2 linked regions of the Homo sapiens genome follow. The gene in region 1 interacts genetically with each later gene. Each region holds a gene or a part of one and is shown on either strand. Other genes may lie near its edges.

Region 1 (3,649 bases):
CTGTCCACCCATCTGTCTGTAGTCCACTGACCTCTCCATCTTTCCGTCTGTTGTCCACTGACCTCTCCGTCTATCCATCTATCTATTGTCCACTGACCTCTCCATCTATCCATCTATTGTCCACTGACCTCTCCATCTATCCATCCATCTATTGTCCACTGACCTCTCCATCTATCCATCCACTGTCCACTGACCTCTCCATCTATCCATCCATCTATTGTCTACTGACCTCTCCATCTATCCATCCATCTATTGTCCACTGACGTCTCCATCTATCCATCTGTCTGTTGTCCACTGACCTGTCCACCCATCTGTCTGTTGTCCACTGACCTCTCCATCTTTCCGTCTGTTGTCCACTGACCTCTCCGTCTATCCATCTATCTGTTGTCCACTGACCTCTCCATCTATCCATCTATTGTCCACTGACCTCTCCATCTATCCATCCATCTATTGTCCACTGACCTCTCCATCTGTCCATCCACTGTCCACTGACCTCTCCATCTATCCACCTATTGTCCACTGACCTCTCCGTCTATCCATCCATCTATTGTCCACTAACCTCTCCATCTATCCATCCATCTATTGTCCACTGACCTCTCCATCTATCCATCCATTGTGCACTGACCTCTCCATCTATCCGTCTTCTATCCAGGCCTCCATTCATCCCCCATCTAGTCATCCTCCATCCATCCACCAGACATCCACTCCTGCCCCTACCCACCCATTCACTAGACACCAAAATCCGGTGACGAATTATTTGCAGATGGACCCCTGGGGACGTATGTCACGAATGTACATCCCCAGGTCCCATGGTCAGAGTCGGCAGGTGTGAGTGGGGCCCAGGAAACTGCATTTTCAGAAGACTCTAAATTAGAATCAGACATGGCTGCTGTGTGGATTCACCCTTCACCGTCACCCTGCAGAGGAGCAAGGTCCACAGGGTCGCTGTGTTCCCAGTGCGTTCCTGACCACACCGTAACGCCCCTTCCTTCCTCCCTCTCTCACCAGTTGCTTACATTTCCTCATCCCGGAAGCATGACAGCATTAAAGACGACTCGGAGGTGAGTGTGTGGAGCAGCTCGCTGCCATTTCCGACGTCCTCTGGAAAGTCTGTGAGCCTGTCTCTGGGGTAGTCACGGAAATCTAGATGTGAAATAGACATGGTCCGGGGTGTTGCTAACTAATCTTCACGGGTGTGGATGTCTAGAAGGAAGTCCTTATTCTTGGGTCTTACTTCAGGCATGTCCTTGATGAATACCTGCAGGCAGCTGTCCCCGCAGGTGGTCTGGGGACCACACCCTGCGGGGGAAGCCGTGCCCCACATCCTCTCCATTCAGGTGGTACAGTGGCCCAGGGGCTGGCTTTTGAGCTGCAATTTTTATCAAGTTGTGTCTGCACCATGCCTTCCGAATTGTGTTGCCTCATTTGGCCATCCTGGCAAACCCTCTGAAGCCCTTTCATGTCCTTCCCCAACTTGAGCCAAGAGGCTCAACTGAGCCTCACGTCTGTGGCCAGCTCTGCACCATAAACCCTGAGAAGGGAACAGAAGAGCTTGCTGCGTTCTCAGCCTCTGCTCGTAAAACCCAGGGAAGGACTGCACTAGCGAAGCCCACTCCTTTCCAGAGCACCAACAAGTGTCACCCTCACAACTCGTGCTCCTTCCTGGCCATCCTGTGTCTGGAGGGAGGCCGGGGCACTTAGAAAGCAGAATCTGAGGCTGAGCACGGCGACTCACACCTCCAATCCCAGCATTTTGGGAGGCTGCGCACATCGCTTGAGTCCAGGAGCTCGAGAACAGCCTGGGCAGCATAGCGAGACCCTGTTCCTACAAAAATAAATACAAAATAATTAGCTGGGCATGGTGGCACGGGCCTGTGGTCCTAGCTGCTTGGGAGGCTGAGGTGGGAGGATCGCCTGAGCCTGGGAGGTGGAGGCTGCAGTGAGCTGAGATCGCACCACTGCACTCCAGCCTGGGCGACAGAGGAAGAGTCTGTCTCAAAAAAAGCAGAATCCGGCTGGGCGCGGTGGCTCACGCCTGTAATCCCAGCACTTTGGGAAGCTGAGGCGGGCAGATCACGAGGTCAGGAGATGGAGACCATCCTGGCTAACACGGTGAAACCCCGTCTCTACTAAAAATACAAAAAAAAAAAAAGCTGGGCGTGGTGGCGGGCGCCTGTAGTCCCAGCTACTGGGGAGGCTGAGGCAGGAGAATGGCGTGAACCCGGGAGGTGGAGCTTGTAGTGAGTCGAGATCGTGCCACTGCACTCCAGCCTGGGCGACAGAGCCAGACTCCGTCTCAAAAAAAAAAAAAAAAAAAAAGCAGAATCCATTTTGCCGCACAGAACAGCACCTCCCAAGGAACCGCCTCCTCCACCCCGACCTCCTTGCCAGGTGTAGCTTGCGGGAGGCAGAGGCTTCTGTTCTTCCTCGGAGCGCCTTTCTCCTGGGTATTTCTAATAATTATTTCTAATAATGTGTGCCTGCCGGTTTGGGAGCTCTTGGCAGGCATTAGCTGCATTCGCTTTACCTTCCTTCCCCTGAGGGAGGGCACTGATCAGGAAGGATGGGCCCAGGCCCTGGGCCACATGTCCCTGTGGCCACCTCTTCAGCCCCACTGATAGGGCTGAGGGCCTGGGGGTCCCTCCCACCTGCAGCTGTGACCAGAGCCATGGTCTGTGGAACGAACAGCTTCTAGCTTTCTAGCACCTTCCTCAGAAGCACACAGCCTTAAATTCTTACCTTTCATGCCCCAGTTTAGATGGGAGTTTGGGGGTGGGATATGTGGGACGCAGAACTGAGACTCGAATCATGAGGCCCTGGGCTCTGAGGAGCAGGTCTCTGTTGGGACCGCATGAGTGATGCGTGGTCCTCTGAGTCTCCCGGGAACCCCCCTCTCACTTTCTGGGGTCTTGTTCTCCCTCCCTAGGACCTTAAGCCAGTTATCGATGGGATGGATGGAATCAAAATCTCTCAGGGGCTTGGGCTGCAGGACTTTGACCTAATCAGAGTCATCGGGCGCGGGAGCTACGCCAAGGTTCTCCTGGTGCGGTTGAAGAAGAATGACCAAATTTACGCCATGAAAGTGGTGAAGAAAGAGCTGGTGCATGATGACGAGGTAGGTGCCGCTTCTCATGGGGCCCGGGGGCCCGGGAACGCGCTGCCCTGGGGCCTCCTCCGGGCTTTAGCGGAATTAATCCATGCACGAGAGACCTAGCCTCACGTTGACGGAGTTTGTGCAAAATCAATAGTCATGCATCGTGTAATGACCAGGATGTGTTCTGGAAAGTGCCTGGTTAGGTAATGGCACTGTTGTGTGAACATCACAGTGTGCACTCCACAAACCCAAACAGCACAGCCAACTCCACAGCCAAGATGCACAGTGCAGCTCCTGCTCCCAGGCTGCAAGCCCGTACGGCTGTTAGTGCACTGCACACTGCAGGCAGTGAGGGGACCACCACGAGAGCACTCACGTGTCTAAGCTTAGAAAAGGTGAAGATGGGTATCGTGGTCTCTGCAACCTTCTCATGTATGGCCAACCACTGATACGTTGCCTTCCAGCAGACTGCGGTTGAGTTTTAGGATGTCATCACCCTTGTTAGGAAATCTCTGGGGTTGAGCTGAACTGGACGGGTGATGGGGTGGGACAGGA
Region 2 (3,749 bases), on another chromosome or scaffold:
CCTATATGGAAACTCACATGAGCAGCCATCAATCCCCATCATAATTCTTGTAAAAGTTGTAGCATTTCTATTTCTGTTCATGGAAAGAATAAGATCAAGGATCAACTTCTTAATATTGATATGTGTTTCTGAATAAACACTAAATGGTTTCAAAATCTGTTATTACATGACTATAATCTATTCCTGAAGCAACAGCAAACTGCCATTAGCTTGCACATTTAGCCAAATGTTCACAGGCTGGGATATTAGCAAGAACTCGTAGTAACACTTGAAATACATTCAGAACCCAATTTTATGTGCAGGAAGTTTTCTTTAAAATTTTTAAAGCTAGAATACTATTTTTGAGACAAGAACAGGACACAAGAGTATACACTGTACAGATACCTACTTCAAATTGTTACTAAGAATACATGGGATAATTCCACAACTTGGCTTTCTGTGCCTTAGATGGGACTCCTAAAAGGCTCTAAAGTGGGTCTCATATACGAAAAACATGTACTAATAGTTAAAGGATATCATATAAATGAAAATCTCATAAATTTTCAGTGTAGAGACTACCACCAATTACCTTCTCATTATTTCCTTTTGGCTTCAAATTAATTCAACAAATATTCAGGGAACACCTATTGATTTTTTTTAAGGCCATTTTGCTAGGATCTGGGGTTATAGTAATAAAGGTAAACTCCCTGCCATCAAGGCGCTCACAGTCTAATTCTGAACACCACCAAAGAAAAGAGCACATGAGGGTGACATTTCCAGCTCTAAGGCAGCAGAAGGTATGCATTATACATTTTTTGCATACCCTTCAATCAAGCAATAAAAAATCTTCCCGTTCGACCCTGTGGGAGGAGGCACTTGTGTGGTTCGGTCTGGCAGGACCACCGCCGTGTTGAAAGTCCCCCCAGACAGCTGTGCCCAGCACGGCAGTTTCGTTGGGGTCTAGGGAAAGGGCAGGGTCAGACTGGTCACAATCAGGGCTGGAGATTTTTTGGAGTCAACTCTCCCAAAGGCAATGGGGTCTACTGCTTTATTAGGAAAATGGAAAGAAAAAAGGGAGGGAAACAATGTACCCAGGCGCCCCCACCGCATTCTGATTGGACCCACTTAAGCATCTGCAGAAAACAATAAAATGAAAAAAACTCTTAGAGGTGAAACTCAAAGGTCAACCTCTGGCTGTGCGGGACAATGGGTGTCCGGCCTTCCCTTCCCTTCCCTTCCGAAGTGATGAAGGAGTTCCAATGTTCTGCGAACACTGGAAACCCCAGCGGATCCCTCTAACTCCAGGGCAGCGAAACCACTGGCAGCGGACAGAGGGAGGATTGTCGGTGTGTGAATTGCTACCCTGGGATCCGGACCCAGAGCGGCAGCCGCGCCCCTCCGCCCCCCGCGCGACCCCGGGTCCGAGGCACGCTCCCAGCGGAGCGGTCCTGCGCCCCCGCCCCCTCCAGGAGCCGCGGCGCGCACAGCCGGGCTGGAGCGCGCACCCGGCACTGAGGCTTCGCTGCTCTCGGAGCGCTCAGACCGCGGCCGCCGCAGCCGGCGAAAGAGGCAAAGTCCCGCACGCCGGAGGACATGCGCCTCGGCTAGCGGCCCCGGGCCCCACCACCGTGCGGCTTTCTCCAGATTATTCCTCTCTCGCTGTCTCTGACTGTCTCTCTCTGTCTCTGTCTCTGTCTCTCTCTCTCTCACACACACACACACACACACAAACACACATACGCACGCACGATCTCACTTCGATCTATACACTGGAGGATTAAAACAAACAAACAAAAAAAACATTTCCTTCGCTCCCCCTCCCTCTCCACTCTGAGAAGCAGAGGAGCCGCACGGCGAGGGGCCGCAGACCGTCTGGAAATGCGAATCCTAAAGCGTTTCCTCGCTTGCATTCAGCTCCTCTGTGTTTGCCGCCTGGGTGAGTGAGAAGAGCTCGGTGGGGTTTCAGCTCCGGGATCGGTGGGATGAGGGTGGGAGCATTTCAGCGTGTCCGCGACTTGCCGCCGCCGCCGCCATCTAGCCAGGAGGAAAAAGGGACAGCCAACTGGGCTCCCACGGAGCGGGCGGCCGCGCGGTGCAGGCAGCTGCGTGGGATTTGCGCGCCCCCTCCCCGCCCCGCGCCCTCGCCCCTTCCATCGGCCCGCGGGCATTCGTGCCCCGGGCCCCAGGAGACGGAGCTACTGGAGACGGAGGGCTACTCGGATCCCTGCCGCCACCGTTCTTCTCTCCTCTTTTGCAAAGTGTAGAAATCGCCTTTTAGATATACATAGGAAGATAAATGACCAGAAATACAGCTGTGGTGCGGGGCTGTGTACTGTACTGTCTTTTTTGCTGTTCATTTTTATGCTATAGGTATGATGGGCTTAAATGGAAAGTACACGTGTCTGGTGTGAATTGCAGACACACACACACACACACACACACACCTGAAAGGTAGTAACAGGCACAAGCACCAACCTGACTTTTCAGGGTTTTTTTTATTACTTTCAATTTAGTCATATTCAAGTCTGCGCAATTACTTACAAAAAAAAAAGTTCCATCTAAATCTCTAGGTTTGGTCAGTGCTGCCAAAGTCAGAGGAGAGCTGCAGGTTGATATACTTATTCACAGATTTCATTTTTCATCTGCACCCTCCAGGTTACATTTAAAACTGAAATTGCATTCAGCAATAGCCAGTTTAAGCATTCCCTTTACCTGCGATGCAGACTCAAGTTTTCCAGTCATTTTCGAGAAGTGCAAGATTGGACTTTTGCGTTTTATTAAAGAAATGCTTTTTTTCCTTCATGATTTTCCATCGCGATAGAATATAATGGGTTTACGCATTAACCTGAAAGTTACAAAGTGTTGTACTTCGCTTTGTGAGTACACATATTTAATTCTTTTCAGAGGCTCCCAATTTTTCAATTTTAGATGGTTCATAGTAGAGTAGATATTAAGCGTACATTTTCATCCAATAGATGGTGCTGCTCTTGGCACAGTAACCTTTACAAACAGAAACTATTTTTAAGTTCTAATAAATGAAAATTACATTGCAAATACGGTGATAATTGCCCATAGACCCCCACACACGGACATAATTTAAATTTCAAAGGCTTTATGAAAGTGCTTGGGGTGGTGTGATGCATAGTTGACACATAAGACATGCAAGGGAATCTCTGGTCTCCATTGATTCTAAAACCTTATAGTCAGTTCTGGAGAGGGGAAGACAGCTTTAAAAAGTACGTGGTCATCAAACATCTGTTGAATTCACATTTCTATTGTAGATCTATTTTAACAAAGAAGGCAGGTCCTCTTAGTAATTAAATTATGTAAGTAAATATCACAGTAGCAAGGAAATAAACCAGAGAGTATTGCTTTGTATGTCTTCAAAACCACATGCCCAGAGCATGTTGCGGATCTCTTTGAAAAAAAAAAAAAGATAAAATTCACACATTATACAATTCATCTTTTTAAAATGGTCCAGTGGTTTTTAATATATTCGTGAAGTTGTGCAGCCATCACCACTAATTCCAGAATGTTTTAATGACCCCAAAAAGAAACCCCATGTTCCTTAGCAGCCATTCCCCATTCTCCATGACCCCAGCTCCTAGCAACCACTAATCTACTTTCTGTCTCTATAAATTTGCCTATCCTGGACATTTCATATAAATAGAATCATGCAACTTGTGGCCTTTTCTGTCTGTCTTTGTTCACTTGGCATAATGTTTTCAGTTTCATCCATGTTATAGTATGTATAAGTACTTCATTCCTTT

What was found.
Region 2: changes in PRKCZ (region 1) and PTPRZ1 together harm fitness more than expected from each alone (negative genetic interaction), as found in Homo sapiens cells (one large-scale study listed by BioGRID).

The regions. Positions count from the first base shown.
Region 1 is NC_000001.11:2,147,864-2,151,512, forward strand, and holds part of PRKCZ (protein kinase C zeta type), read left to right. Parts: intron 1-1,008; coding exon 1,009-1,061; intron 1,062-2,926; coding exon 2,927-3,115; intron 3,116-3,649. UniProt on the Homo sapiens protein: Calcium- and diacylglycerol-independent serine/threonine-protein kinase that functions in phosphatidylinositol 3-kinase (PI3K) pathway and mitogen-activated protein (MAP) kinase cascade, and is involved in NF-kappa-B activation, mitogenic signaling, cell proliferation, cell polarity, inflammatory response and maintenance of long-term potentiation (LTP).
Region 2 is NC_000007.14:121,871,643-121,875,391, forward strand, and holds the start of PTPRZ1 (receptor-type tyrosine-protein phosphatase zeta isoform 1 precursor), read left to right. Parts: upstream 1-1,518; 5' UTR 1,519-1,857; coding exon 1,858-1,915; intron 1,916-3,749. UniProt on the Homo sapiens protein: Protein tyrosine phosphatase that negatively regulates oligodendrocyte precursor proliferation in the embryonic spinal cord. Required for normal differentiation of the precursor cells into mature, fully myelinating oligodendrocytes.